Regions from separate parts of the Homo sapiens genome. Here all the other regions are linked to region 3. Evidence: fine-mapped expression QTL. A gene starts in region 3. Each other region holds a variant in brackets. All regions are shown on one strand. Distances are between the middles of the regions.

The links. PIP is the estimated chance that this variant, and not a neighbour inherited with it, causes the effect.
Region 1: its variant is the best candidate, but not a certain one, in a credible set for the expression of PTGDR2 in subcutaneous fat (FUSION, PIP 0.90).
Region 2: its variant is the best candidate, but not a certain one, in a credible set for the expression of PTGDR2 in whole blood (TOPMed, PIP 0.51).
Region 4: its variant is the best candidate, but not a certain one, in a credible set for the expression of PTGDR2 in monocytes (TOPMed, PIP 0.70).

What each region holds. Positions count from the first base shown.
Region 1 is chr11:60,793,399-60,801,662 of GRCh38, forward strand. It overlaps MS4A10 (membrane spanning 4-domains A10), which reads left to right. Exons shown (of 8, transcript NM_206893.4): 5 at 574-705; 6 at 2,157-2,267; 7 at 4,998-5,116; 8 at 6,430-7,907. The coding sequence ends at 6,511. All of the region lies in intron 2 of LOC105369322 (a long non-coding RNA gene), which reads right to left. Among named protein-coding and RNA genes, the nearest start is that of MS4A10, 12 kb to the left of the region's middle. The variant C/T (reference allele first, on the strand shown) is at 3,970.
Region 2 is chr11:60,816,280-60,824,543 of GRCh38, forward strand. The region is part of intron 2 of LOC105369322 (a long non-coding RNA gene); the gene reads right to left. Among named protein-coding and RNA genes, the nearest start is that of CCDC86, 22 kb to the right of the region's middle. The variant G/A (reference allele first, on the strand shown) is at 4,135.
Region 3 is chr11:60,853,287-60,858,286 of GRCh38, forward strand. It overlaps PTGDR2 (prostaglandin D2 receptor 2), which reads right to left and starts at 2,664. Exons shown (of 2, transcript NM_004778.3): 1 at 2,583-2,664; 2 at 1-445. The coding sequence starts at 436.
Region 4 is chr11:60,830,974-60,839,237 of GRCh38, forward strand. LOC105369322 (a long non-coding RNA gene) reads right to left here and starts at 5,166. Exons shown (of 3, transcript XR_950149.3): 1 at 5,023-5,166; 2 at 2,742-3,061. The variant G/A (reference allele first, on the strand shown) is at 3,851.

The DNA.
Region 1 (8,264 bases), 58 kb before region 3:
GTCTTTCCTCACTAGGAGGATTTGCACTTGGCAAGAGGCTCTTGGAATGATGCTTAACCCGAGAGGACGATGAATACAGGCATTTCAGGAACCATGGCAGGTGGGCGGAGAAAATGGGCTGGTACTGGGACATGTGAGGATAGGGCACTTTCAGAGCTCCTCCTGACCTTTCTGGTGGGGAAGGGGCTGGATGAGGGGTCACCTGGGTGTCGAATCCCTGACACTTGGCATAGCTGATGTAGGATGGTCGGGGCTGGCTTTGAGCAGGAAATGGCAATAGGGCATCCTTTATTGCAAAGCTCTTGGATCTGAAGGCAGCTCTTGGGTTCTCCCAATTTGTCCCATAGAAGGCAAGGGCCAGCTGGACCCTCCTCAGTGGTCACACAGGAGCAGCTCAGCTCAATCCTGTGTGAGGGGCTGAGGGGCCAGTGACAGGCAGAGGGGGCCTTGGGCCCAGTGACAGGCAGAGTCTCTCCTGAGGCTACAGAGGAAGCTACTGGCAAGCATGAGGGGAGGACCTAGCCCCAGGTCTCCACCCTTTGGACAGCTGTTACCTTTATTTTTCACCTATAGAAGATGTTGTGCCTGATGACAAACCTCATCAGCCTCTTTTGCGTGCTGTCTGGCCTCTTCGTCATCTCCAAGGATCTCTTTCTGGAGAGCCCATTTGAGTCCCCGATCTGGAGAATGTACCCCAACTCCACGGTGAGTACCCAGGCCTGGAGGGCCCTCTGACTTCAGCGAAGGTGCTGCCTTGGATTTGGCCAACAGGAGGTTTCCAGCTCACAGAAAGCCCCTCCTGGAGCCCAGGTGTGGGCTGCTGGGCCCTTTGCCAACCTGTTTCTGTCCCCTACAAGGTGTGGTGGAAAGGTGGGTGCTGGGCTGCTGACTGGTCAGCATCACTGAATCCAAGTCCACTTTTATAGATTGGGAAATGGGGCCAGAGACGGGGAGGAGCCTGCCTGAGGTCAAGCAGCAACTTGACGGCAAATCCAGGACCACAGCCTAAAACTGCTGATTTCCCAGCCAGGGCTCTAAGCATGGTGTGCCTGGTGGCCCCTGTGATCCGGGAGCCTCCCATCAGCCTTGCAAAGCTGGCCAAGTCCACTTTGTTACCCTCATCTTCTGGGAGTGAACACGGAGGTCCAGAGAGGCTAGATTAGTGGGTCTTTGACTCCAAGCCTGGTGCTCTTTTCACCATATCACTGCTGCCTCTGAAGCAGAAGGCAGACCACTGGGTGCCTCTGGGCCAGGCTCCAAGAATTCTTTTTTCTTTTTTTTTGGAAGGGGCGGGGGAACGGAGTCTCACTCTTGTCACCCAGGCTGGAGTGCAGTGGCACAATCGAGGCTCACTGTAACCTCCGCCTCCCAGATTCAAGCAATTCTCCTGCCTCAGCCTCTCGAGTAGCTAGGATTACAGGCACCCACCACAGCCACCACCACGCCAGGCTAATTTTTGTATTTTTAGTAGAGATGGGGTTTCACCATGTCGGCCAGGCAGGTCTCGAACTCCTGACCTCTAGTGATCCTCCCGCCTCAGCCTCCCAAAGTGCTGGGATTACAGGCGTGAGCCACCATGCCCACAAGGGTTCTGACCATAGTGGTTTGTTATTCCTTATCTCCTCCCAGCACATACACACACGTGCATACACATGCACATCACATGCATGTGCGAGCATGCATGGACACACATGTGCGTGCACACACACACATATACATATGCTTCCCCATCAAATGCATGTGATACTATGAGATGACTCCCAGCTGCACGGCTCTTCCCCTCCTCTGCTGTAAAACATGCTCCCTCACTCTGGGACTAGGTACCCCCATCTGTCAAATAGGCTTGGATCAGATGACCCTAAGGCTACCTTCATTCTTACCAGGGACCCATGAGATTCTCCAGCCCTCAAACGTTAGGCCAATACTCACCAAAGACCCATATGTGCCAGGCATTGAGTGTAGGGCAGTGACCAAGACAGACCAAGTCCCCGTCCCACAGAGACCCACCCTGCCTTCCCCACGCACACCTGGGAGCTGAAACCCCACCTGCCCTCTGCTGTGGATCTTAGCAAGGACCCCTGCCTGGCTAAGCCCACGTGATGCGTGCAGACACCCAGCGAGGCCTCACCCTGCCTTCCTTCCCTCTACCCTCTCAGGTCCACATCCAGAGGCTGGAGCTGGCCTTGCTCTGCTTCACTGTCCTAGAGCTCTTCCTGCCAGTGCCCACAGCTGTCACAGCCTGGAGAGGGGACTGCCCATCTGCAAAGGTAAGACAAGGGCTTGTCTTCCCAGGAAGACAAAAAATGGGGGCATGAGGCAGCAGAGAGCTCAGAAAGGAAAGATATGTGGGGGTTACAAGAGGAGCGTGTTTCATTCATTCCTCACGTTGCTGAGCGTTCACTAAGTGACAGCCCACGATCCAGTAGGGGAGCCAAGGCACGGGGGCAAGAGAGGAGGCCAATCCAAGGAGAAAAGGGTGAGGCTGCCAGAGAGGAAACTCCATGGGTGCCCAGAACAAGAGGCTACTGTGCTGCCAGCTCTGAAGGCCCTGGGGAAATTGCATCACAGAGGCCCATGATGACCGGGCAGGATTCGGACCCACAGGCATAGGTGGAAGAGAGACTTTCAGCAGAGCAAGAAGAGCACGAGCACTGGCTTGGAGACAGGACAGAGAAGGCCTGGGGAAGCTATGGTGTGTGTGGAGTTTGGCTGTAGTGGAAACAAGTGACAGAGTCATCAAAGATTGGGCATTTAAGGAATTGCAGGGACTCTATTAAGCATCAATCGATGCATCCATTGATGGATGGATGGATGGATGATGTATGGATGGATATAGACGTGCAGATATACAGATAAATATAGCTGTATTTAACTTTATCTTCTCAATAACCCTTTTTCTTTTGAGACTGAGTCTCACTCTGTCACCCAGGCTGGAGTACAGTGGCACGATCTCGGCCCACTGCAACCTCCGCCTCCCGGGTTCAAGCAATTCTCCTACCTCAGCCTCCCAAGTAGCTGGGACTACAGGCATGTGCCACCATACCTGGCTAATTTTTGTATTTTTTTAAGTATAGATGAGGTTTTGCCATCCTGGCCAGGCTGGTCTCAAACTCCTGACCTCAAGTGATCCACCACCCATGGCCTCCCAAAGTGCTGGGATTACAGGCATCAGCCATCATGCCCAGCCCTCAACAACCCTTTGAGGTACTTACATTCTCATACTACAGACTAGCAAGCTGAGGTCCAGAGAGGTCACATCACTTCTCAAGGCGAAGCAGCCAATTAGGAAATCCAGGACTCAGCCTGAGCTATGTCCAACCCACAGTCTTGCCCTTGTCTACCCATGGGGATGGCATAGGGCTAGATATATTTTAAAATAGAAGGCAAGTCTCTGCTCACCCCAAAGATCCTGAACAGTTCAGGATAAGGATGTTTTATAAAAGAAAAAAAATAAATAAAAAATAAAGACCCTGACCAGAAGTGATCTCTAAGGCTCATTTCTTTAAAGAAAAAAAAATCATATTACAATCTCAACTTTAGAACATTATTTAAAAAAGTGCCAAATCCCCCATAATTCTTCAAGTTTGACACTGATTTTCATGTTAGTGACCTCATCACACACCAAGTGTTCACATAATGCATATATAAGTTGATGGCCTCTGAGTTTCATTTAACATCAAGCAGAGAAGGTGTCTTTGTTAATTCCTAGCTGCCTGACAGGAAGTCTTCTCATTAAGACATCAGAAAGCCAGATGGGGGTCTTGAGTCACTGAGGCCAACCCCACTTTTAAGGATGGGGAAAACTGGGGCCCCATACCTAGCTGCAGCTATGAGCAATAATTGTTCCTATTTATTGACCTTTGCTGTGTTCCAGGCACTGTGCTAGTGCTGCAGGTGGCTGTATTCATTTTCTATTGATGTTGTAGTAAATTATCACAAATTTGGTGGCTTAAAATGACACCTGTATTA[C/T]CCTACAGCTCTGGAGGTCAGCGGTTTGAAATGAGTCTCAAGGGCTCAAATCAAGGTGTGTCGCCAGGACTGCATCCCTTCCGGGGGCATCAAAAAGAATCTCTTTCCTTGCCTTTTCCAGCTTCTAGAGGCTGCCTGCATTCCTTGGCTTGTGGCTCCTTCTTCCACCTTCAAAGCCAGCATCACAACATCCTCCAATAACCCTGTCTCCCTCTTCTACCTTTAAGGACCCTTATCATCATACTGGGCCCAGAGAGATAATCCAGGAGAATCTCCCAATCTCAAAGCTGATTGGAAACCTTAATTCCATCTGCAACCTTAATTCCTCTCTGCCGTGTGACCAGAGATTAGAACATGGGTGTCTTCTGGGGGCCGTGCTTCTCCCTACTGCACTAGCTAAGATGTCCTTGAATCTCACGGCCATTCTGGGACGCAGGTTCTGCTTTTCCATTTTAAAGAGGAAAAAATGAACCTTAGAAGAGTTACGTGACTTCCCATGGTCTCACAGCCAGTAAGTGGCCATGCCAGGTTCCCCAATGGGCCCTGTGCCCTCCCCATCGGTAAGGATGGTGCCAGGGACAGGCTCTCCAGCACTGAGTTGGTGCCACCCTCATCACTAATCAGGGATGGAGGTGTGGCAGCAATCATTGGCAGACACTGTTGGCATTAGACCTGCCCCTAGAGTGTATCCTGGCTAGAAGGGACTTGGGTCATGGCCCAGCCCCCCTCAGGAAACCCAACAGGGTGAGTGACTTGCACCTGGTCACCAGGACACTGGTAGCGGGACGGGAACCAGAGCCCCATCCAGTGACTCCCATGTGGGCCTCCCCCTACTCCCTTTTCAAGAACAGGGAGGGTGGAGGGAGTCACACACTGGTCTATGGAAGTCGCTTCGTCTCTCAAGCCTCAGTTTCCCCACATTCATGGAGAACTTGAGTCTTCAGAAGTGAACTAGCAGAGAAGTGTTTCGGAAGCAGCCAGTCGCTCCACAGCTGTGAGCAGCAGGGGCGGCGACTTTTCTTTCGCAGAATGATGATGCATGCCTTGTTCCGAATACACCATTGCATCTCAAAGGCCTGCCGGTGGAGCCCCCGCCATCCTACCAGAGTGTGATTCAAGGCGACGCACAACACAAGCAACATCAGAGGTGAAGAGGTTTGGCCCTGGCTCCCCAGACCTTCAGAACCCACGCTTGGCCCCTTCTCCCTGGCATAGATAGAAACCAGTTCCCAGGGGAGCTGTAAGGGGCAAGGGGCTAACAGTGCTGCAGCTAGAACTGCCTGGCCTGGGAGTGGTAGCCAAGGCAGCAATGGTCCTATCCCCTCAGGCACTAGAGGAACTCCCAGGGCCCCCCAGGAACATCTCAGCACCTGACTTGGTTGACCAGAACTACCTCAGCTGAACCTGGGCGCAACCAGGACCCATCGCCTTCCCTGCCAGCCTCCAGAGCAAACCCCTGGGCCTGCAGCCCCCTGGTGCCCCCCATGCCCTCTGGCCTCCCTTGCCTGCCTTCTCTGATCAATGGTGGATGCACAGGGGGATATAAGGGCAGCCAGGAAGGAAGGTCTCCAGAGCGGCACAGGCAGGGGCTTCCCTTGCCTCAACCTACTAAGACATCTCTGAGGGAGCCTGTGTGTCTGAATCCCTGGATTTGGGCTGAGGGCAGCTGGGGAGTTGAGTCCCATAGAAACTGTGTACAGTTCTTCCCTCTGAACTAGACCCTCTGCATGAATCTTTTTGCCCTCCTGGACCTCAGTGTCTCCATCTGTAAAGTGGAGGTGCAAGGATGACATGATCCAGGAGTCTCCCAGCTTGAAAGCTCTGAGATCAGGAGAATTCAAGGTTCACAGTTGTGACATCGAGGTTGCCAGTAAAACTTCAGCCTCGGAATTTCAAACCTACTTGTGCTAAGTAAATAATGTGAGGGAGAGGGACCTGCCTTCCTCATTTTCCTAATTTCAGTCATCTGAGGAATAGTCTTCAGGACTTTTGCTTATTTGTGAGCTGCAATGTATTCTGGTTTTTTTTCCACACTGATTCTTTTTTCTATATTATTTTAAAGGGGCACTTTGTAGCAGCAAGATATAGGAAATCAGTATCTTTCCATAAACAGAAGCAAACCCCAAAAATAACAAACATGTGAAATAAAACGCAATTTTCCCCTCCAACCCCGTGGTCTCACCCACTGCTTCCCTTCCTCTTGCTAGCTCTGCCCCAGCCACCATGGCTTCCTTGAGGTTCCACAGACACCCCAGGGACACCCCTGCCTCTGAGCCATCACCCTTGCCCTTCCTCCACCTGGATTCTCTTCCCCCAGGTATTTGCAGAGCTCACTCTTTGAATCTTTACTGGGCCACTGACTCTGAGCCAAGTAAATGCTATTTAATCTCAATGTCATTTAATCCTCCCATCGATCTGTGACCTAGCTGCTGTTGCTATTAATATCTCCATTTCATGCAGGCTCAGAGAAGTTAAGCAAGTTGCCCCGGACACATGGATAGTCACTGACGGAGCTGCGATCTGGACCCAGACTGCAAACTGAAGAGCCACTGCCTGACAATGCCCAAACTTGGTTGGAGCATAGCCCCTGCTCTCCCAAAGTTGCACTTTCACTGGGAAGATGAGATTTGCACATACAAAAGGCTAGAGCGATGGTCTATACAGCAAAGTCAGCCCTCACAGCTCCTGGGAACGCTGTCCTCTCAGATAAGCCATTTCTTACATAGTTGATGGCTCGATATCTGTGGTGGCCCAGATTGTTTTGTTTTGTTTCGCTTTGTTTTGTTTTCTTTTGTTTTGTTGAGATGGAGTCTCGCTCTGTTGCCCAGCCCAGAGTACAGTGGCACTATCTCAGCTCACTGCAATCTCCGCCTCCCTGGTTCAAGTGATTCTCCTATCTCAGCCTCCCAAGTAGCTGGGACTATAGGCACACGCCACCACGCCCAGCTAATTTTTATATTTTTAGTAGAGACAGGATTGCACCATATTGGTCAGCCTGGTCTCAAACTCCTGACCTCAGGTGATCCACCTGCCTCAGCCTCCCAAAGTGCTGGGATTACAGGCGTGAGCCACTGTGCCCAGCCCAGGTTTTGAAGTTGTCCGAGATAGCAGTCTGCTCTCTACTGCCTTATAAAATCCCTGTGTGAAGGGATGCTCTCAGTATCATTTGCCCTTGCACAGAATATCCCTGGGGTTTGAGGTTCTTTGAATTCTCCCTCTTTGTCATCTCTTTCGCTGCCACTTCTGGCTGTGGTCACTAGCTTGGCCATAGCACCTCTCTTCTCCACTTCTGATCTGCTGCTTCTAACCTTCTATAGATTGCAGCTGGCTTTAAAATAGATTGTAAAGTGTAAGGCATTAGGTTCTGAGACAGCGGCAGAGAGAGCCATGCAAATGTTTAGGACAACCCAGTCTTTCTTTTTTTTTTTTTTTTTTTTTTTTTTTGAGACGGAGTCTCACTCTGTCACCCAGGCTGGAGTGCTGTGGTGCAATCTCGGCTCACTGCAACCTCTGCCTCCCGAGTTCAAGCAATTCTCCTGCCTCAGCCTCCCGAGTAGCTGGGATTACAGGCGACCGCCACCACGCCTGGCTACTTTTTGTATTTTTAGTAGAGACAGGGTTTCACCACGTTAGCCATGATGGTCTCAAACTTCTGACCTCATAATCCACCCACCTTGGCCTCCCAAAGTGCTAGGATTACAGGCATGAGCCACCACCCCTGGCTGAAACCCAATCTTTCAAAACATGAAAGGGGGTGATGGAGAAAACCTTAGCTTGGTTGTCTAAAGACATGGGTGCAAACTCTAGGCTAGCTCTGCCAATCACTTACTGTGCGGGTTTGACTCAGTCCCTTCCCCTCACTAGGTCCCAGTTTCTCCATTTGTAAAACAAGCAATTGTGCTACATTGATGGTTTACATCAATAAAGGTTGAAACGGCTTCTGGTTCGACTTCTATTTTTCAAAAATCAGTCAGTGGAAGACTTGTCAATGTTCCCTTTGAAAGGGCACTGCCTCCGCAGGTGCGTGGTGGAAGCCCGGGCAGGGTTAGCTGGTCTCGGCGGAGCATGGCCACAGCCCAGTCCCTGAGTGGCTCATCAATACCGCGACCTGCTAGAATGGCTGGTATCTTCTACACAGTATGCAGAATTTCTAACACCAGGCTAGAAACAGAAAGCAATCTTTGACTATTGTTAATACTGTGGTTAAATTTTAGTCTGTATTTTGACTTTTTTTTTTCAATTTTTTTTCTCTTTTGAGATGGAGTCTCACTGTGTCGCCCAGGCTAGAGTGCAAT
Region 2 (8,264 bases), 35 kb before region 3:
CTGACCTTCCCTCCACTATTGTCCCATGACCCTGCCAAATCCCCCTCTGTGAGAAACACCCAAGAATTATCAATAAAAAAATAAATTAAAAAAAAATAAAAAAGAATAACCAAAAAAAAAAAAAAAAAAATCCCAAGTAAACACATTAATGGATTCCAATAGTCAAATCTGGAACACAATGTACCTTTGAGTATGCTTGATTTCAACAGTTTGTTCAAATAGTCAAAATCTATATTTTAAAAGTGGAATTCTCATCAAATATTGTCCAAAAAAATAAATGAGTAGAAGTGAGACGGCCAGTCAAGTGTTTTGCCCTGCCGTTTGCCCACTGTGTGTGGCCTTGGGGATGGAGGGGGAGATGTTGGGGAGGTACAATGGGAAGGGAAACTTCTCCTCTCTGGCTATAAGTTCCCACATCTACAAAATGAATAAGCTGAAAGAAAATGAAAATATAACATATACAAATCTGTGGGATGCAGCTAAAGCAGTTCTTTGAGGGACATTGATAGTCTTAGATGTTTTTATTTGAAAACATGAGTAGACTCAAATCAATAAAATAACTTTCCAACTCCTTCCCTTAGAAGACCAGAACAGTCACAGCATCATACAAGCATGACTCCTAACAGGTGGATGCAATCTACCAGTCATTCTAGCCCATCACTCTCATTTTACAGATGGAGAAACTGAGACCTGGGGAAGGCAGCAACTGGCCTATCACACAGAATGTTAGTGGCAGAGCCAGGACTTGAACCTCAGACCTGTTATTGTTTCTCTTGGAGGTCAAAGACTGGGGCTTATCTCCCTGCCTTTATTCCTAGGATGGCACAGGTAGGAGATCCCGAAAACTTGTTATTCTTTGTGAAGCTTGATCAATGAAGAACCTTTAGGTCCCCCCAAACACTGGTCCATGTCCTCACACTGGACATGTGGCACTCACATGGCAGTTTCTCCTGGCAGTGCTCAGCTGTGTCCTGACACCCTTCTGGATCCTCCATCCCATTGATTAATCATCTTTGGGGACTAATTTCCTTAGACTATGTCCTTGGTTAGCCAACCTTTTCCTTTTGAAGCTGAATGGGGTCAGTTTCTGTTATTTGTGTTAATTCTGCTAGACTGGGAGACTAGTGGGGATTTTTCTAACTTTGTAATCCTGGCACTTAATATGTGTTGGAATAAAACATCTGTATGGGCGTGGTGGTGCACACCTGTAGTCCCAGTTACCCAGGAGGCTGTGGCGGGAGGATTCCTTCCTTGAGCCTAGGAGTTCAAGTCCAGCCTGGGCAACATAACAAGACTCATCTCTTAAAAAAAAAAATCTGCTAACTTTGCCCTCCTCTCGGCTTGTGTCTGGGGAGGACCCTTAAGGAAAGAGCAGCCACATGGCTGGGGCTGGGCTCAGGCTCCTGCTCCCCAACTTGAATGGGCAGAAAGGAAACAGCAGGAATTTATCCAGCACCTACAGTGGACTGGCCATGACAATACCACCCCCTTTACACAGAAGAGGAAGCTGAGGATCAGAAAGTCGAACGGCTTGTCATAAGGAAGCACACTTACTGGAATTCCAGTGCAGCTGTCGTGCAGCACAATCCGTGGGTAACTCAAGTGAGACCCCGAGCCTTGCCGAAAATGTGGATTATATGGTAATATCGGCAGAGCCCAGGCAGGACCTCAGAAGTATTAGACACAGAAGTCACACATGTTTGGACAATGGATGCTATTTTTCTGTTTAAATTTTTAAAAATTATAGTAGAAATGTATAGTTGATCCCAACCATGAAACTAAGAATGTCAGAATCAGAAATGACTTTGGGGATCATGATCGGGTCTAATGCTTCCATTTCACAGATGAGGAAGTGGGGGCCCGAGATAGGAAAGGACTTGCCAAGGTCACACAGTACCGTTAGTAGAAGCAGCCGGGTCTCCTCCCTCTCCAGACAGTCCTCCATCTACTGGCAGTCTCCTGCCAACTCCTGCTGAATGGTCAGGAATGTTCCCAGTTCCTTCTGCCAACTCTATCACCTGTAGGGGTCTCTATCCCCACAATAGCATCACCCACCAGCTTTTCCTGATGGTTGCTCTACCCCACTGTCATGGCCCAAACAGGTGACAGAGAAGTCTAGAAAAATAACTCCTCCAAAAATATCCAGAAAGAGTTAAGGGAGTAGTGAGAAAGTGGCAACAGGGCTGACCTGCCAGGAGGAGCAGGGCTTTTGCAACGGGCTCCATGAAGCCATGAGCCTGAGGCTCGGGGTGCCTTCCCAGCATGCCAGCCCCACCAATCCACTGCCGAGGTTCAGACATGGCCCTGGACAGATGTCAGGATTAGCAGATACCCACTTACAAAAGAAACACACAGGCTTTTCAGAGAGGTGTACCCATATTTCCACAGAGGACAGGTGGGCATCTCAGACGGCCTCATCTCGAGGACTCATCTCAAGCTGTTTGAGACAGGTCTATAGGACCCAAGGGGTGAGCACAGTTTTAAGCCTCAAGAGGGCCCTAGTCCATTATTTCTGCAGCTGATTTGTGTCTGGCAGGAAAGAAAAAGCTAACATGGATGCAGCCACCTCCACGTGCTGGGAACTGCACGGGCACTTTGCATGTAGTATCCCATTTAATCTCACAAGATCCCATGGAATAGGGATTCCTCTGCCCCCTTTTTGAGATGAGCAAATGAAAGCTCAGGGAGGTTAACGAACCTGCTTGGGTGTGGGGTTGTATCATCAACACAGAGGGCTACGCAGCCAGAAGACCTCACAGGCACCACTGAAACCCACCAGGGCCTGAAGGATGGGAGGGTTTGGATGGGCCAGTATCCTGCAAACTGGCCTGATCGAAAGGGTCACCTGGGGTATGTTAAACGTGGAGATTCCCAGGCCCCTGCCCTAGAGAGTCTGATTCAGAAGGCCAAACGTGAGGCCCAAGTCACTGTATTTTCAGCAAGTGCTCAGATGATTCTTATGATCAAGCAAGATTGGGAAACACCAGGTGGAGAAAGAAGGAAAAGGAATGGGTTGCAGGGCATAGACACGCCTTGTGCAAAGGCTCAGCAATGACCTCAGTGAAGCATGTTTGGAGGGCAGTGAGAGCACAGGTTGAGGCAGAGAAGGAGTGATATCAGGAGAGGTGAAGATGTGTCCAGGCTGCTGGACAGAGAGCCCCATGACCAGGTGAAGGTCAAGAGCTTCAGGCCTTAGGATCCCAGGGACCTCCCAGCTCTCTGTTCCTGGGTTTGCTTAGAATTGGAGGCATGTTTTCGGTTTTTTGTTTTTGTGTTGCTTTTTATTTTTCTTTTAATGTCTCTCACTTTTGCTTAGGGAGGCAGTGGGATGAACACTGGACAGGAGTCAGAAGCCATGGGTTCCAATATAGGCCCGACTATTTACAGTCTGTCTGACCTGAGCCAACTGGAGGGTTGCTCCCAGGCCTCATCACACAGGAGGCTTAGTAATTAAGCACAGGACCATGTGTGAAGACTCCAGGTAAGTGGTAACAAGCCATACAGACAGGTGTAGGCTGTGGAGTTGGTGGTGTTATTAACTAGCCTGGCGGACTAGAAGGGAATGGCCTGGGAGATAAGTGGGGATGTATCGTAAAGCAGGAAAAAAACCCAGGTTTTCTAGCCAGCTGTCTTGGATTTAGATCCCAGCTCCACTATTTATTAACCGTGTCATCCAAGCAAGTTACTTAACCTCTCTGGTCCTCAGTTTGCATAAGAGTGAAATGGAGATTGGGCTTACCACATTATAAATGCATGCTGGTAAGCATGAGGTTGTAGTGGTTGTCACCAGGTCCAAACTTCTTCCCTTACCTCTGTCTCATTAACTCCCTTTTACCTCCATTCCCCACAGCCTTCCAGCCCCAGGTAACAACTTCAGCACGTTTTAATGCATGTTGTGTTACAGGATATTAGTGTACACATATTTAACTTGTGTGTATGGTATTGTTTTGTCTCATTTTGGTTCTTTTTTTCCCCCTCTCAGCCTGTGTCTAAGAGCCACCACGTTGCTCTCTGTGGACATCCTGACCTTTGCTTTTAGCTGCTAAGAATTACACACAATTCATGTTTTACCAATCACTCCTCCTGGTGACGTAGCTTCACTTTTCAGATGGGAAAACTGAGACCCAGGAAATG[G/A]GGATCTGCCTGTGAATGTTCTTCCTCATCCTGGGACCCCAGTTGTGTGTGCTGCAGGTGTCTGAAATGTCAAAAGCAAGACCCAGGCTCCAGCTCCCTCCAGGAGACATGAGGCAGCCCAGCCCACAGCCCACCTGCCTTCTGAAGCCAGCTGACAGGGCAGCAGCAATTAGTGAGGCTCCCTCCTTCTGAAAACTCAGGGGTGCCATGGCAGAGCCCAGAGGAGCCATCCTGGTAGGCTGAGACCCTGGGCAATGCCCACCCCAGCAGAGAGAAGCTCTTTTTCCGGGGACAGCCAACCATCTTGGGAGTAAGTGGATCACCCAGTCTCCACAGACCTGTGCAGCCACTGCCAATCCCAACAGTGATGCAGTCAGTAGAATTTATGGGGCCAAGGGTACATACCAGTGGAGGGACTGTGGAGCAGCAGGGAGGCAAGACAGAGCTGCTGGGGTTTTCCTTCCTGGCCTCCAGCCCTGAAAATTAGCAGCAAAGGGCTGGGGCTGCCACTGCCCTGGAAAGCACTGCTTGAATCCAGGATACGAGAGCAAACCTATGTCCCCCTTGCCAGGCCCCAGGAGCTGGGTACCATCGCTCTAAGGCAACTCTGGGGTGAACCGGGAGCTTTCCTTTTCTGATGCCGCACCCCTGCATCAAGGCTCTCCTCATTGTAGCTGATTGGGTCTTGGTCAGTGGTGAGACCAGCACGTGTGGGCAGAAGTCTGTGCCTGTCTCCCGCTGATGTCAATGTGGGCAGCTGAGCAGAGAGTATGGGCCCAGCCAGGCACTGGAATCCTAGCTCCTCCGTTCTCTGCATGTGTGGCTCTGGGTCCCAGTTTTGAAAATGAGGTCTCTTTTACCTTGCCGTTGAGCACGAAACGATGGGAGGAGCGGAGCCTGCTGGGAGAAGCTACTCCTCTTGGGTGACAGAGAGGTGGAGTGTTGAGGGTGAGGTCAAAGTGCTGCTCTCAGGTCAGAGAAGCCTATTTGAGACAAATGATCGCAAACTTCTGGGCTTCAGCCTAGGCTGAGTCAACCCTGTGCCCTGGAAGGACAGGCTTGCATGTGCGGTATGGAGGCTTAGGGAACATGGGCAGAGGCAGGCTCCGATCCCACTCTGAGACCCCAGCTTCGTCCCTAGAATGCCATGAGCAGGGTGCTGCTCCATTCATGGGTGTGGTGAGAGCTAAATGACTTGGTGCACAGAGCAAGCTCGGTGCACTCAGGGCCAGCACCTTGGAGGTAACCAATGTGTTGGGCTTGATGCCTGAGATGGCCCTCACCCAAGCTTTCTAGGGTTCTGCAATCCTGCGGTGCCCCTGGGACGAAGAGGCCTGGTTCTGCGCCTGCCCTCACTGGCTGGGGAAGTTGGCAAGGTTCTTATTCTCTCCAGGCCTCTGTTTTCTTGGCTGCCAAGGAAGGAGGTGGATGGGGAGTTTGTCTAAGATCCTTTTCGGCAGAGACATGTGCACAGAGACCTGCCCAGCCACTCAAGTCCTGGGAGACACAGCCCCAACCCCGAAAGCCCAAGGCTTTAGCTCTGCGCCCTCCCCCCTCCACCCCCAGGCCCTGCAGATCATTATCAGCTGCTGGCAACTGGTGGCTGGCAGGTTGGGGGGCGGGCCGCATCCTGGCTGCCTCCTCGAGCTCCACCGAGTTCCCCACCACTTACTTGTACCCGCTGGCAGGAGGAGTGCTCCTGAGGACCCTGGAGATCCCACTTGGTGGTGGCCCAGAGACAGAGAGGACTGCAAAGACCAGGACTGCAGATCCTCCCTGCACCCTTGGGAGGGAGTTTGAGTCTGTGAAGTGGGAGTGAAGCTGCAGGGGGTGGAACTGTTCTGAGCTCGAGGGGAAGTTCCAGGCCCACCCCACATGGGATTGGATGGCCCAGGGGAGGCACTGGGCTGTTGAGGCGGCCAGCTAAAGAGCTGAAGCTGGTTCACAGCGTGTGGTGGGGGGAGTCGTGGCAAAGGGCCTCTGCCCCAATATATGCAGCCGAGGAAGGAGAAAGGTGGTGTCCCTGGGGACTTACCCCGAGGGTAACACTCAAGTCAAGGCGCTCAGCCACTACAATGAAACAAAAGCCCCTGGGACTTGATTTCTAGATCCAGATCTATCACTTAGCAGCCCTGTGACTTAGGCAGGTTGCCTCCTTCTCTCAGTCTTAGTTTCTCCATCTTCAAAATGAGAGACTAGTCCCTCCCACCTCCAAGCATGGGCCAGAGACCAGCATCTTTGGCATCACCTGGGAGCTTGTTAGAAATGCAGAGTCTCAGGCCAGCTCCAGTGGCTCAAGCCTGCAATCCCAGAGCTTTGGGAGGCTGAGGGGAGGATCTCTTGAGGCAAGGAGTTTGAGAACACCTGAGCAACATAGCACGACCTTGTCTCTACTAAAAATAAAAAATGTTGATATGCAACAAGATATAAAAAAGGAAAAAAAAATTAAAAAGGAAAACTAGCTGGGTATGGTGGTACATACCTGTAGTCCCAGCTACTCAGGAGGCTGAGGCAGGAGGTTCACTTGAGCCCAGGAGTTGGAGGCTGCAGTGAGCTATGATGGTGCCACTGCATTCCAGCCTGGGCCAGAGAGCAAGACCCTGTCTCTTAAAAAAAAAAATGCAGGCCAGGCATGGTGACTCACGCCTGTAATCCCAGCACTTTGGCAGGCCGAGGCGGGCAGGATCACGAGGTCAAGAGATCAAGACCATCCTGGCCAACATGGAGAAACTCCATCTCTACTAAAAATATAAAAATTAGCTGGGCATGGTGACACAGACCTGTAGTCTCAGCTACTTAGGAGGCTGAGGCAGGAGAATCGCTTGAACCTGGGAGGCAGAGGTTGCAGTGAGACGAGATTGCGCCACTGCACTCCAGCCTGGCGACAGAGCAAGAGGGAGACTCCATCTCAAAAAAAAAATTAAAAATAAAAATAAATAAATAAATAAATAAATAAATGCAGAATTTAAGCCCCACCGTACACGGGCTGAGTCAGTCTGCAGCTTAACAAGATCCCTAGGCGCTCATGTCCTCTGTCAAGTTTGAAAAGTACTGGACCAGTTACCTAGGAATCTTTCGGGCATTCCCGGCTAATTTTTGTATTTTTAGTAGAGACAGGGTTTCGCCACGTTGGCCAGGCTGGTCTTAAACTCCTGACCTCAGGTGATCTGCCTGCCTTGGCCTCCCAATGTGCTGGGATTACAGGCATGAGCCACCATGCCCGGCAGGTACCTAGGAATCTTTAGTGGCCCCCTTCTAAAATCCTATCTCACCAACCTATGCAGAGCCCAGTGGGGAGGACTAGATGCCTTTCTCTGTTCCCATAAGCCCCATTACTCCCTGTTGTCAGGCCTCTGAGCCCAAGCTAAGCCATCATTTTCCCTGTGACCTGCATGTATACATCCAGATGGCCTGAAGCAACTGAAGATCCACAAAAGAAGTGAAAATAGTCTTAACTGATGACATTCCACCATTGTGATTTGTTCCTGCCCCACCCTAACTGACACAATATATTCTCCCCTGCCCTTAAGAAGGTACTTTGTAATATTCAAAGTACCACTTTGTAATATTCAAAGTACCCTTAAGAAGGTACTTTGTAATATTCAAAGTACCCTTAAGAAGGTACTTTGTAATATTCAAAGTACCCTTAAGAAGGTACTTTGTAATATTCAAAGTACCCTTAAGAAGGTACTTTGTAATATTCAAAGTACCCTTAAGAAGGTACTTTGTTCGCCTATCCCAAACCTGTAAGAACTAATGATAATCCCACCACCCTTTACTGACTCCTTTTTCGGACTCAGCCCACCTGCACCTGGGTGAAATAAACAGCCTTGTTGCTCACACAAAGCCTGTTTGATGGACTCTCTTCACACGGACGCGCATGACACTTGGTACATGGCCCACTGTGCCAAGCCATAAATGCTCATGGCAAACCTTCCCTGCATTAGGGTTTCCAGGAGGCAGGTGCCTCTGGGCTCCCTGAGACCATCAATCTCCCTGCCTCTCTGTGCAGTTCTTAGTTTCAGGAGCAACCACCCTGGTCATCTCAGCAAACTGCACAGTTCCCCGGGTGAGTTTCATAGACATTTCTTCTGCCTCTGGGCACAGCTTATCCTGGAAGACCTTATATG
Region 3 (5,000 bases):
CCACGGTGCGGTGGTTCTGCGCCCACACCGGCCGCACCACCTGCAGGCAGCGGTCCAGGCTGATGGCGCTGAGCAGGAAGCCGCTGGCGAACATGTTGAGAAAGAAGATGGAGGAGTGCAGTTTGCAGAAGGTGGTGCCCAGCTCCCACGAGTGGCCCACGGCCAAGAAGTAGGTGAAGAAGGGCAGGGAAGCAGAGGCCAACAGGTCGGACAGCGCCAGGTGCAGCACCCAGGTGGTGACCACGGTCTGGCGCATGCGGCAGCCCACCACGAAGAGGATGACTCCATTCTCCACCAGGCCCAGCAGCGAGGCCAGCCCGTGCAGCAGCACGGCCGCGTGGTCGATGTAGCGGATGCTGGTGTTGCTGTGGCTCTGGAGACGGCTCATCTGCTCCAGGATGGGGCAGAGTGGCTTCAGTGTGGCGTTGGCCGACATCGTGGGGCTCTGCAGTGGAGGGAAGGAGGCGCCTAAGTTGGAAGTGCAGAGGCCACCGGGGAACCAAGAGAGAGGCCCGGAGTGGGACCCTGCCCAGGAGATGCCAATGTGACCCACGAATATATTGGGCGGTGGGGGTGGGGGGAATAATATCCCAGCATTGCTGTGCTTGGGCAAGTCATTTAACCTTCCCGAGCCTTTTTCTGCCTCTGAAACTTGGATGTCAGTCATAACATCACCTAGCTCATAGAGTTATTGGGAGAATTAAGTGAGTTTAATACATAAAAGCATTTAGAACATGGCCTGGCACAGAGCAAGCACTTTATCAGTGTCATTGTGATGATTATGGAGCAAATGGTCTAAGATCACACAGAGAAAAAGGAACAAGGTCAGGCCACACAGGACTCCTTTTTCCCATCCCCAGAGCACTGGCGGGTGAAGGAGGCCCCACAATTAGGGCAAGAGGATTCTGCTGGCCTGGGCGATGGAGATGCTGCCCCTTCCCACAGCATCCACAGCGCCCCCAGATGTTGCCTCTCTACAGATCCTCCATGCAGCTCCCCGCACTCAGTGGTGGCTGGTTAGATGTGCCGACCATAAACAGTGGAACCAGCCCCTCCTCTGATGGTTGGAGAGGAAATAAGATAAGAGCCAGGAGAGCTGGGGAGGAGGAACTCCCACATGGGGCTCTGGAGGCCCAGTGGGGCCAAAAGATCTCTCCCTTCTCAGGAGCAGCCACAGCAGCTCTCTCCGCCCCAGGAAACCCACCCCTGTTCATTCACTTACTCCATCATGCACTCATCCAACAAATAAGACGTGCATGCTTACATCCTCATTGAAAGCCCGAAAGACCATCTGATGTGAGGCTGGTCAAGACCAGTGAGGGCTGAGGAAATTCCATGAGGCTCCATGCAGGAGGTAGGAGGCAAGTAGCAGGGGACAGGGACTCAGGGTGTCCTGGGCACCAATGACACTCCAGGTACTATGGTAGGTCCTTCACATAGGTGCTGTCTTTCTGGCTCTAGAAAAATGGTGCTAGTACTCCATCCTATTTTACAGATGAGAAAACTGAGCCTCAAGTGGTTAAATAACTGGCCCAGAGCCACCCAGACAGCACAAACATGTGGAGGAGAAAGTTTCATGCTCAGCCTGTGCTCTTTCCTCTACCCCTACTCCAAGGAAGAGAGGATGGAGGAGGAGGAAGAAAAGCGGGAGAGGGGAGCAATGGTCTTCAGTACTCATCTTTCTAGGGAAAACACTGTTGGCCAGGATGAGAAAACCCACTCCCTTCCAGAGACCACAGTCCTTTGTAGAGTGGGGTTCTGGAATATCAAACTAGAATTCTGCTGGCGGAGGAGCCCCTTGGAGCTAGAGACCTGCAGGTAGATGGAAGAGGAGCCTGTGCTTCCTGAGAATGGTCATACTTCCTAGGCTTTAGAATGTGCAGAGCAGTTACTCTTGCAATGAACCTATGACACCCCATTTTTCAGAAGAAGAAACAACAACTTGCCCAGCGTTCCTCAGCTGCAACAGTGGGGCTGGGACTTCACTCCCAGCAGATAGCCAAGTACCACCCGCTGTCTGCCCTGAAACATTCCCTGCAGACCAGCTGCTGCTGATCCAAGTCCTATGGGGATGATCAGAGAGCACAGTCCTGCCACACCCTTGGGCACCACCAGATCAGTCCTTCTAACTCTATAGAGACAGCCCCCAGCCTCCCAGGATTCTCAGGAGCCAAGCAGCTAAGGTCCGGCTTTGGCAGGTTAAGAAAAAAAAAAAAAAAAAGGGACAGAGAGTGCAAGCTGTGGGAGTCCAAGACCTGGGTTTGAATCCCAGCTCCTCAGCTTCCTGGCTGCGTGACCTTGGGCCAGTTACTCTAAGCGTGCTGGTGTCATCTTCCCACCCAGACTGCTTGTGAATATTGACAGACAGTTGAGTGGTTTCCCCTCGTATCTGACATCTAGTTAATGCCTAAGAGAAGCTAATCCTTCCCTCCTCTGAGCACCAAGTCCCCTCCAGTCTTTGGTAAACTCAATCTTCTGCCATCCTAGCTGGTAACAGCCCTCTCACCTGGTAAAACTTTGCCTTCTTCTGTGGGTCTAGAGAGGGCACTAGGCTGCCCAACCCCTGGGCCACTCCTCCTTACCTGGGCACAGAGGGAGCACAGGATTCCAGCCCTGGAGGCAGTCAGCTCCTGACAGCAGCTAGACAAGAGGCAGCGGGCAGACAGAGGTGGGAGAGGGAGGCTGAGAGAGGAAATAGCTGTCAGCCCCAGTGCATGTGTGTTTAGGGGTGGGGTTGGGGGAGGCGGGGACAGCTGGAGAGTGAGTTGCCACACAGATGTTCAAATATCATCAATTTCCATCAATGCCGGCAGCCCCTGCTCCACCCATCCCCGCTTCATGAAGGAGACTGCAGAAGTCCAGAGGGCAGTGCAAGTGCACGTGAAAAAATCGATGTGTGCAAGAGAGTGTGAGCCCGAGTGTGACTAGGGGTGTGCTTTTGAGAGTGACCAGTGTGTAGGATAAGTGCGTGAGAAGGAGAATGTCTCATCCATCTGTCCACTGTTCCTGGGCTTCCATCTCCCGACACCAGAATCCTCAGAGAAGAAACCCCTCCAGCTGTTCTGAGTTTCCCAGGCAGTGTGGGGGCCTGTCCATGAGGGACCCGAGGGCTCTAAGGCCAGGAAAGTACAGTGGGGTAGTGGGGGCAGTGGCAAGAACGCAGTCCAAGAGGTCAGTCACTTCTGTTTGCTGAGCCCTGGGGTTGTCATCTGTGAACGGGAGCAGTAACATCGGCCTTACAGGCTGTGGTAAGGGTTGAATGAGATGGATTGCACAAAGCTCGTGGCACACAGTAAGTGCTTATAAAAATCAGCTTCCTTCTCCTCTGAGGGAAAAATGAATATAGGCTCTAAGGCAAAGGTCATATAGCTTTTATTTAAAACAGGCTCAATTTTGGGAGGCCGAGGCGGATGGATCACTTGAGGTCAGGAGTTCAAGACCAGACTGGCCAATGTGGCAAAACCCCTGTCTGTACTAAAAATACAAAACTCAGCCAGGCGTGGTGGCACATGCCTGTAACCCCAGCTACTTGGGAGGCTGAGGCATGAGAATCGCTTAAACCCAGGAGGTGGAGGTTGCATTGAGCCGAGATCACACCACTGCACTCCAACCTGGGTGACAGAGTAAAAACTCCATCTCAAAAAAAAAAAAATGGAAATTTAAACTAAAAAACAAAAACAAACAAACAAAAAAACACACAGGCTCAAAGCCCTAGGATAAGAGAAGTTTGCATTTCATTGTTCCCTAACTCCTTACTCTCATTTGCTGACCAAGCTTCCTGGGGTCAGGACCATCCCTTCAACCTCAGCATCTCAGCACCTAATGGATACTCATTAAAACATTTTAAGAACTCAATATCCCTGTATCGAGGCAAAGGCACCTCCCATGAGATGGACAGCACAAGCATCTTCCATTTAGGCCTAGTCTTAACGCAGAGACTAATGCATAATACGCTCTTGCTGAGAGGCTACCATCATGAGTGGAAAATGAGTAAAATGCTATGCCCTTGTGATGGGGATAATACATCTCACTGTAGCCCAATATGGCAGATCAGTAAGAGCCTTGGTGATCCAAATCATTAACAATAGGAAAATGTCCCCTCTCCTCCAGGTCAGGGAAGGCTTGATTTCCAAAGACAAATGCCTGCAGCCCTCCAGAGAACATAGGTGGATGATTCCATTCTGCATGGGGAAAGTGCCCTCTTTTCCACCCACCCCGGACACCCAACCCACTGAACCACAGACAAGGCCACGTGTGCCTTGTCTGCGCACAGAGAGTGTCAGGCTGTGGTTAAGCCCAGGGACTCTGGGGCCAGACCACCAGTGTCTGGATCTGGCACTGCCACTCCTCAGCTATGTGATCTTGGGCAAGTAACTTCACAGCAGTAAAATATGAACTTTAAATGGTGTTCCTTCTGCACAGTCCCACCCTCAAAGGACAGGGGTTGGAGCCCAGATTTATCTTTGGACTAAGAAAAAGAATCACCCCTTCCCCACCACCCCACCCCACAGACACATCTCAGCACCAGGGCATCAGGCTTGAGATAAGGCACAGCCCTTCCTCTGGATCTCAGCCCACCCTTGACCCTTCCACTGGTATCCTTGTACAGTGAACATCCTGCACAACCTCTCCTGGCCACCCTGCTGAGGTGCTTCTTTTCTGGCTAAAAAACCCTTACTCATCTGCCCCTTCTCAGTCCTTGTTTCCAGTCCTGTAATCACTGTAGTGACTCATGTCCAGCCCCAGTGCGAGTGTGTTCCTCTCTAAAGAAAACCCAGTGTGTGTGTTCTCTCTAAAGAAAATGTATTACTAAGTAAACAAAAAAAGCTACTAAGCTTAAAGTTACCAAAACAAGTTCCAGATGAGCAGGGCCCAGAGGCATTTTCTGAAGAAGAGCCGTGCCCTGCCTTATCCCATGGCTTGTGTCCCCCAGGACTGGGAGAAAGATGCAGCTGCACTCAGGCTCAGGCCCTAGTCCCTAAATTACAACCTCCTCCAAG
Region 4 (8,264 bases), 21 kb before region 3:
CCCGGTTCCCACCTCTGTCACATGACAGCCTATGGCGGAATGCATATCCCAGTAACTGGGAGACTCCAAAACAGTCACCGTATGTCCCCGTGGCATAGACCTAGTTTGCAACCAGTGTCGCATCTAAACAGATGTTCCTGTTTGGAGGATAAATTATATCCCTGTAAACCCTGGGAGAGTGGCTCTCTACACGCAGGCAGCTCCAGAGACTTGCAACATACGGCCACCAGGTGGCGGCGTAGCATCGAGCACTGAACTTGAGCACCTGCTCTGGGCAAAGAATTCATGAATGCCCTGGCCAGGCAGATACCAGTCTCAGATATTTGCGGGCACCTGCTGAGGCTACTGGTACCAGCAGGATCAGCTCCACTCAAGGCTGCATTCAGAAAGATATTTATCTGCAGAATGGAACAGAATTGGTCAAGGAGGGAACAGCCAGGAATGTCATGGTTCAGAGACACTAAGCTGGTACCTTTGGGCTTCCGTTGACACCCGCTCCTCCAGTTGTGGTTACCCTGAGCTATCCTCACTCCAGGAGCTACTCATGGCCTTTGGGGCATTTCGAGGTTATTCCACATGAATTCTTAGTCTTATATCACCAACAGGATTGTGTGGCCTGGCACAAGTCCTGCTTAGAGGACGGATCAGAAACACTTGGATGCCTGGGGCAGGCTAAAAATTTGGCAGTCTTCCAAATTGATAGTCAAATATGTCTCATTTCAACTGAGTGAGGATGGCAAGAAGCCATTTTCACATTAATACAAATCGTAACCCCCTTTCTTCATGTTCAAAGTGGAGATGTATTACACGCACCAACAGGACTCTAACTGATTTTGGAATTGTCTTTCCTGATTCTTCCCTGACTCATAACTGGAAAGCATTGCTCACCCACTCTCCCTCATTTGTAAATAGCAGAAATTACTGCAGAAGCAATAACAAGTCTTATTCTAGATATATTTATTGCTTGTTTTCAGGCGCTTGTGGTTACAGCAACGGTGTTTCACTTGGTTGCCCAGGCTGGTATGCATTGATGCAATCATAGCTCACCACAGCCTCAAACTCATAGCCTCAAGCAATCCTCCAGTCTCAGCCTCCCGAGTAGCTGGGACTACAAGTGGACAACTTTTTAGGAGATATTTTTTAAGGCTTGCAGATACCTTCTTGGTAAACCGTCCTTTGCAGTGCATTAATTGGTTTCAGAATTCAGGCTGCCCAGCCATGCCCACTGCAGAGGCTGCCAGCTGGCTGATCTCAGAGCCAGACTGGCCAGTGGATGCAGCAACTTGCAATGCACATTGCAGAAATACCCCCACAGAGGTAGGCTGGTGCTGGGGAGGAGTAGCTTTTCTTTCTACTTAGGGGCATTGTCTATTTTGGCAAAAGGGACACCAATTTCATTTCCACCAGCTATGTGAGAAGCTGCAGGTGGAAACCTGAGTTAACAGGCAGCAGATTTCTGATGGATCCCTGTGGTTTCAGTGTTCCTCTGATTAGTGGATCAGGAAGCTGTCCACCTGCCCAACCCATAATCCCCTTTAACTTGCCTCCTCCAGGAAGTCTTCTTTGACATTCTCTCACCCTTGGGGACCTCAGCTGGTGAAACCCTATCAGTTTCACCACTGGACCTAGCTTGCCTTACTGGGCTATCTGTATATAGATTCCAATCTTATGTCTCCCCAGCTAGACTCAACACAGTTTGAAGACAGCATCTACATCTTACATTTTTTGTGGTCCCTATGATACCCAGCATATGCCAGGCAACAAAGGAAGGTTTACTCGAATCACTTCTTCCTTGTTGACTGATATCAAATCCTTTTAGAGAGTGTCCAGGTACCAATTCCTTGAACAAGCTCCTGAGTATGGACCTGACGTGTCCCTAACACTCATTATACCTTTCCTAATGATTCTTTTGTGTTATTTCAAGAAAAAGTGGGAACGTTTAACAATTATTCTCCAGAAATTACCACCACAATGTGAACTTGTCCTTATCCAGAAAGTAATTTTACATTATCATAACAACTAGAACATGGTAATGTTAGCAAAATTCTCTCCAGAAATCAGTATCAAAACTTTTGCCCACTAGATGTTTGTTTCATAACCATTCATCCGACAATTTTTTATTGCAACAATTATTTATTGAGCAACTACCAAGCACAGATGGTCCTCAACTTAAGATGGTTCAACTTAGGATTTTTCAACTTTATGGCGGGTTTATTGGGAGGTAACCCCATCATAAGGTGAGGAGCACCTGTACTAGTTTGGGTTTGGGGGATATAGGAACAAACAAAATAGGGGAAAAAACTTATCATAGGGAACTGATATTCTAGTCAGTGGGAAATGGACAAGTAAGATATATTAACATATTGTGACTAAAGAACACGGAAGGGCTCATTGATCCAAACGGCCTCTGATGAAGCAATGGTGCTATGATGGGCATCATCCCTACCAATCATATTTGCCCCAGAAAAGGGTGCAAAGATAACCAGAAGACTTTCCCCCTTGAGAGAGATGCCTGCTTGTTAGCAAATAATTTCTGTACCAGTTGCTATGTCACAAACTACCCCAAAACTTTCTGGTGTAAAACAATCATGCTACCATGCTCATAGATTTTATAGCCCAGAACTTGGACAAAGCAGAGTAGGGAGAGGCGATCTCTGCTCTATGATTTCTGGAGCCTCTGCTGGGAAGAATCCAAGTTGAGAGTGGGAGCTAGAATCATCTGGAAGCATCTTCACTCATACCTGGCAGATGATGCAGGCTGTCAGCCAGGACCTCAGCTGGGCTGTGAGCTAGAGCACCTTCACAGGCCTCTCCATGTGGGATGATTTGGACTTCCTCACGACATGGCAGGTGAGTTCCAAGAGTTAGCATCCTGTCCATGAAAGCCAGGTGGAAGCTCATAGCATTCTTATAATCTAGCCTCAGATGTCACACGGCAGGCTGGGTGTGCAGTGGCTCATGCCTATAATCTTGGCACTTTGGGAGGCCGAGGCAGGAGGATGGCTTGAGGCCAGGAGTTCAAGACCACCTTGGGTAACATAGCAGGACCATAGCAGGACCTCTGCAAAATAATAATAATAATAATAATTATCCAAGTGTAGCAGTGTCCACCTGTAGTCCCAGTTACTCAGGAGGCTAAGGCAGGAGGATCGCTTGAGCCCAGGATTTTGAGGCTACAGTGAGCTATGTTCACACCAGGCTGGGCAACAGAGTAAGACTCTGTCTCTGAAAATAACGTGAAGAAGTCACATGGCAACAGCCTGCCATACTTGGCTAGGGCAATTACAAAGATCCATGCAGGTTTGAAGTGCAGGGGGGTTGTAGACCCCACTACTGGAGGGAAGGGGGCATCTAGGTCACATGGTAAGAAAAACATACGGGTAGGAGATACTTTTGAGGCCAACTTGGGAAAACGCAATGTCCTACACCACCTGTGTCTAATTTCCAAACAAGTGGGATATCTCGATCTACCCAGAGTCATCTTGAAAGCAGAGAGCAAAAACCACTCAAGCAAAAGATAATATCTGAGTGTTGTATAATCTTTGGTTTGGAGCAGAGAACAAAAAAAGCAGCAGAATAACACTTCAATTGATCAGCCCCTGCCCTGTATAGAAGGTATTCATAATGATCTGAAATTTCTGGCTTATTTTCAAAGAATAGAAAAATTAGGCCTGGGCTAGAGAGGAGACTCATTCTTGATTTAGTCAAGTGCCTAAGACACAGAGACAAAGCGGTGTGAGTGAAACTGTACACACTTTGGAAGCAGAGTGCTAGATTTAAACCCTCACTGTGCCACTTACCAGCTGCCTGTCCCTGGGCAAGTTTCTCCACCTCTGAAAAATAGGGCAGC[G/A]ATATTAACTTCCTCATGGGGTTACTGTGAGAATTAAATGGGGTAATATCTGCCAAAGCCTTCGTAGCTACTCTGGAAAGAATCTCACTCATTTAAACTGCCAGTGAAACTGATCCATTTTTATGATGTTTAATTAACTGCAATAAAATGTGTTCTCATCAAGACTGCTGACCATTCTTATGTCCTGAAAGCTTACCCTAAGTGACATACTTTTCAATTGGTAAACACAGGAATGGGCCTTTTTGGGGAAATGATCTGCTTGTTTCTATAACTGCCCTTTGAAAGAATGCACCATGGCATCGGAGATCCAGAAGAATGAGCCTTGTTGATCCAGTGGGGTCCAGGAGTTGCTCCGTCCTTGGGGGGCTCACGTTCTGTTTGCTCCATGAGAACAGAGAAGGGAGACTGTTGATTCAGGGGAGGGCTCATCTCACCAACCTGGCATTGTATGAGCCTGCTGAATCAGATTTGGGGCCGGTTTTGATCACCACTAGAGTGTCAGAGAAACTCAGCAGTAGAGAAAGCAGAGATTTTCCCTATCACGTGGTCAACAGGAAGCAAGGAATCAAGAAACCAGGAACCAAGCTGATCTCATAATTTGCTCATAATTTGCTCCTGGTATGCTCCTCCTTGGTCACCAAGGCAGGGTTTCCAGGGGTTGCCATTGAGATGAAGCCACCATATTGATTGGAAGGGATGACCATCACTTAGGCAGATCTCGCACTGTGCAAGGCTTAGAGCTTTAGAGGAAATGAGAGAATAGGGAGAAGTGAATAGAGAGGAAGCCAAATATTAGAGGAAATGAGAGAATAGGGATAAGTGAACAGAGAGGAAGGGAGGGGAAGTGACTCACTATGAAACTGTGATTTTTCAGGTCTTAGGAACTGAGAGTCCATATGTATGGGATGTAAAAATGTGTGCCTACCCATCTGTCTGTCTAAGCTCTTCTTCCATACACAGGGATGAAGCCCGCAGCTTTCACCCACTGGCAACATATGCACGGGGTCTATAGCTCTCCCATCTAAATGCAGCCCCATGAAGCTGAGATGGCTCATAGCCAGGGAATAGGGGCCAGATTCTGAGTTGAGAAGTCCTGAGTTCAAGTCCTGTGACTTAACATGTGGGTAACATTCAGCAAGTCAGGTAACCTCTCTGAGATGCCATCTCCTCACCTGTAAAATGGGGGAATTAATTCTTGCTCAGCCTTCCTCAAAGGATAATTTTCAGATTCAGGTGTTTATTATCTGTGCCCCCAAGATGCCGTAAGATCCACTAAGGCAGGGACCATGATTGCCCTCTTCCCTGTTGTACCTCTTCATGACACCTGTCATAAACATTCAAAAAAGACTTGGTGTACAAATGAATGATAGTATGATGAACTCAGCCCCTGCCCTAGACAGAAGGCAAAGAAAGAAAGCTCTTCTTCCATTGCTCGTTCCTTCCCACCAGATACTGCTCCTTAAAGTGTGGTCTGTGGACCAGTAGCAGCAGCATCACCTGAGAGCTTGTCAGAAATGTGAATTCAGTCTGGGCATGGTGGCTCACGCCTATAATCCCAGCACTTTGGGAGGCCGAGGCGGGCGGATCACCTGAGGTCAGGAATTTGAACCCATCCTGGCCAACACGGCGAAACCCCGTCTCTACCAAAATTACAAAAATTAGCTGGCATGGTGGCGCATGCCTGGAGTGCCAGCTACTTGGGAGGCTAAGGCAGGAGAATCGCTTGAACCCGGGAGGCAGAGGTTGCAGTGAGCCGAGATCACACCACTGCACTCCAGCCTGGGCGACAGAGTGAGACTCCATCTCAAAAAAAAAAAAAAAGAAAGAAAGAAATGCAAATTCATGAATCTTAATTTGGGGGGTCAGAGCCCAGTAATCTGTGTTTTAACATACCCTCCATGATTCCAACACTGACGTTTGAAAAGCACTACTGTTGGACACACTGGGGTGAGGTGCCATGCCCCCTTCTTGAGTTAACGACTTTCTACCTGGTTCAGGTGTTCATTACCCAACCCACCCCACCTCTTCTTGGCCTGCCTTGGAGCAGGAGAAATGCTATGGAGGCTGGCAGGGGCCTGAGGAGGGAGAGGAGGTCTTGTCTCCTCCTCCCCCTCCCCATGGTGACCTGGGGTAGCAGGTCTGGCCCCTTCCTGTTTCAACAGAACCTGCAGATACCGTGAGAGGATCAGGAGATAAACTCTGCTCTCCTCAGCCCTGAGCAGGGGCAGATACATGAGAGCTTTGCAAAGTGGGCCTCTCCCAGCCAGGCAGCTTCTCTGCACCCTGGCAATGCCCCGTAGGGGCAGCTGGGAGGTCTCAAGCTGGGATTTCAAGTACCACTCCATCCTCCCCCATCCCTTGACCCCTCTCCTGAGGTCTCTTCCCACCTCCTCTCAAGGGTCTGAAACTGATAATGAGCTGTTAGAAGCACGCAGCATAGATGAGCCTCTGAGATAAGCATGCACGGTAAGAACTCACACGATCACCCTGGTAGTGTTCCACGTTCTCAGTGGCACCTGATTCAAAGTACCTAGAAGCAGCTCTTCACACGTGCAAAAGAGAAAGTGGGGGTAACTACTGAAAGAGGAGAGTTGGGCTCCCAGAGAGGTAAAAACAAAATGCAACAGGGACAGAGGAAGAATCCTGCACTATCCGAAAAAGCCAACGGTTCATGTCCAAGATCAGAGCAAGGGGATGTAGGGAGCAGGAGAGCCTGACAGCCACGGGAACCAGACTGAGGGTTTCAATCAGATGTCCATGGGGTGGCTTGAATGTGATCTTGACCACACTGATACAGATCATGGAGTAGGGAGGTGACAAATCCACTCAGCCGTCCATGGGGCAGTCAACCTTAGTGCCACAAGGAGCTCTGGGCCCCACATTCTGGAAGCATTGTAGAGAACTGGTGTCTTTCCCAAAGACTTATCATGTTATGGGAGGAACAGGAGATGCTTAACCTGGATAAAAGACAATTCTGGAAAAGCTACAAGAAAACTGACTTCAAATACTTGAGAGAGCTTTGAGCAAAAGACAGAGCAGCTTGGATCTTTGTAGCACAATGAAGATTAGCTGAGGCCCAGTTGCACCTCTGCCCATCTGGGTCCTGCCTTCACTCCTGCCATGCTCAGCAACATCCTCGTTGCCAATGACACCCCAGACTGAGTCAGCCCCATGTCCCAGTCCTAGGCCTGGTGGAGGTGGAGGTTTAGGGCTTAGAGTCAAGAAGCCCTGAGCTCCAGACCTCACCCTGCGCCCTTTTTGTGTCACCCTGGCCCCGAAGCGCAGCCTCTCTGGGAGTGGGATTTCCTGGTCAGTACAATGAGGATGATCACCCCAGCCCTGTAAGGTCCTAATGAGGATCCATTCATTCAACAAATACATATCAAGTACCGTGCTCCTGCTGAAAATCACCCTCCCGAACCGGAGCTCTGGGGAGCACAGGAGCACCCAGAAGAGGTCTGGCGCGTGGTAAGTGCTCAGTTAATGCTGCTGATGACCGCCAGGGGCCCTTTCCCTGCCCTTCTCTCAGAGTTGGCTTCTGGAGAAACACAGCCTGAAACACCGGGGCAAGCAATGATTGGTCCAGGCATTGTTTCAAGCACTCTGCAAGTACACCACCACACCAGGCTCTTCTGAAAATTTCAGGAGTCTCCTCTGGGCCTCTGCACACCATGTATAATGACAATGACAAACTGAGCTCAGGTGGGAGTAGGGGGTTCTGGGCCAGAGCCCACCTGATGCTGAGGTTGACAAAGTGTCTCCAAGTGTCTGGGGGCCACCCAAAGGCCTCCTCTAAAACACATCTCCCTCTCTCTGGTGAAAACCTGAGATCACCCTCTGAAGTATTTCAGGCAAGGCTAGGTGTTGAACAGAAAGCCATGGGGACCCAGGTCTCTGACATCTGGGGACTGTCAGACCCTCTCAACTGTAGCACCCCTTAGCTGGGGGGAGGTCAATGACTCAGAGGAGAACACCTGATCCTATCTTCCATCCATCTGCCAGCGCTTGGTTTCCATCAGTCAGCAGATCTCAGGTTACATAAATAAACTGGTATTGCTGATTCGGCACATTCTGCACGATGGTGTGTGCCAGGTGGTACCCACCTCCTCCCAGCACACAGACCAGAATCAGTGTGACGAATAGGTGAGCAAGGCCCATGTGGGGGCAGCTGCAAGGCAGCTAAGCATGCCACCTCTGGAACCACAATCCTGGCTCCTGAATGTGCCGCTGTCTGATTTTGGGCAAGCACCTTAGCCTTCCCATGCCTGATTCCTTGCCTGGATAACAGGCAGATTTACTGTTAAGAGTTGTGGCTCTGGAATCAGACAGTCTAGGTGTGGATCTTGCCTCTACCACTTATTTGCTGTGTGACCTTTACAAGTGTCTCAGCCTCTCTGTGCCTCAGTCTTTTTTT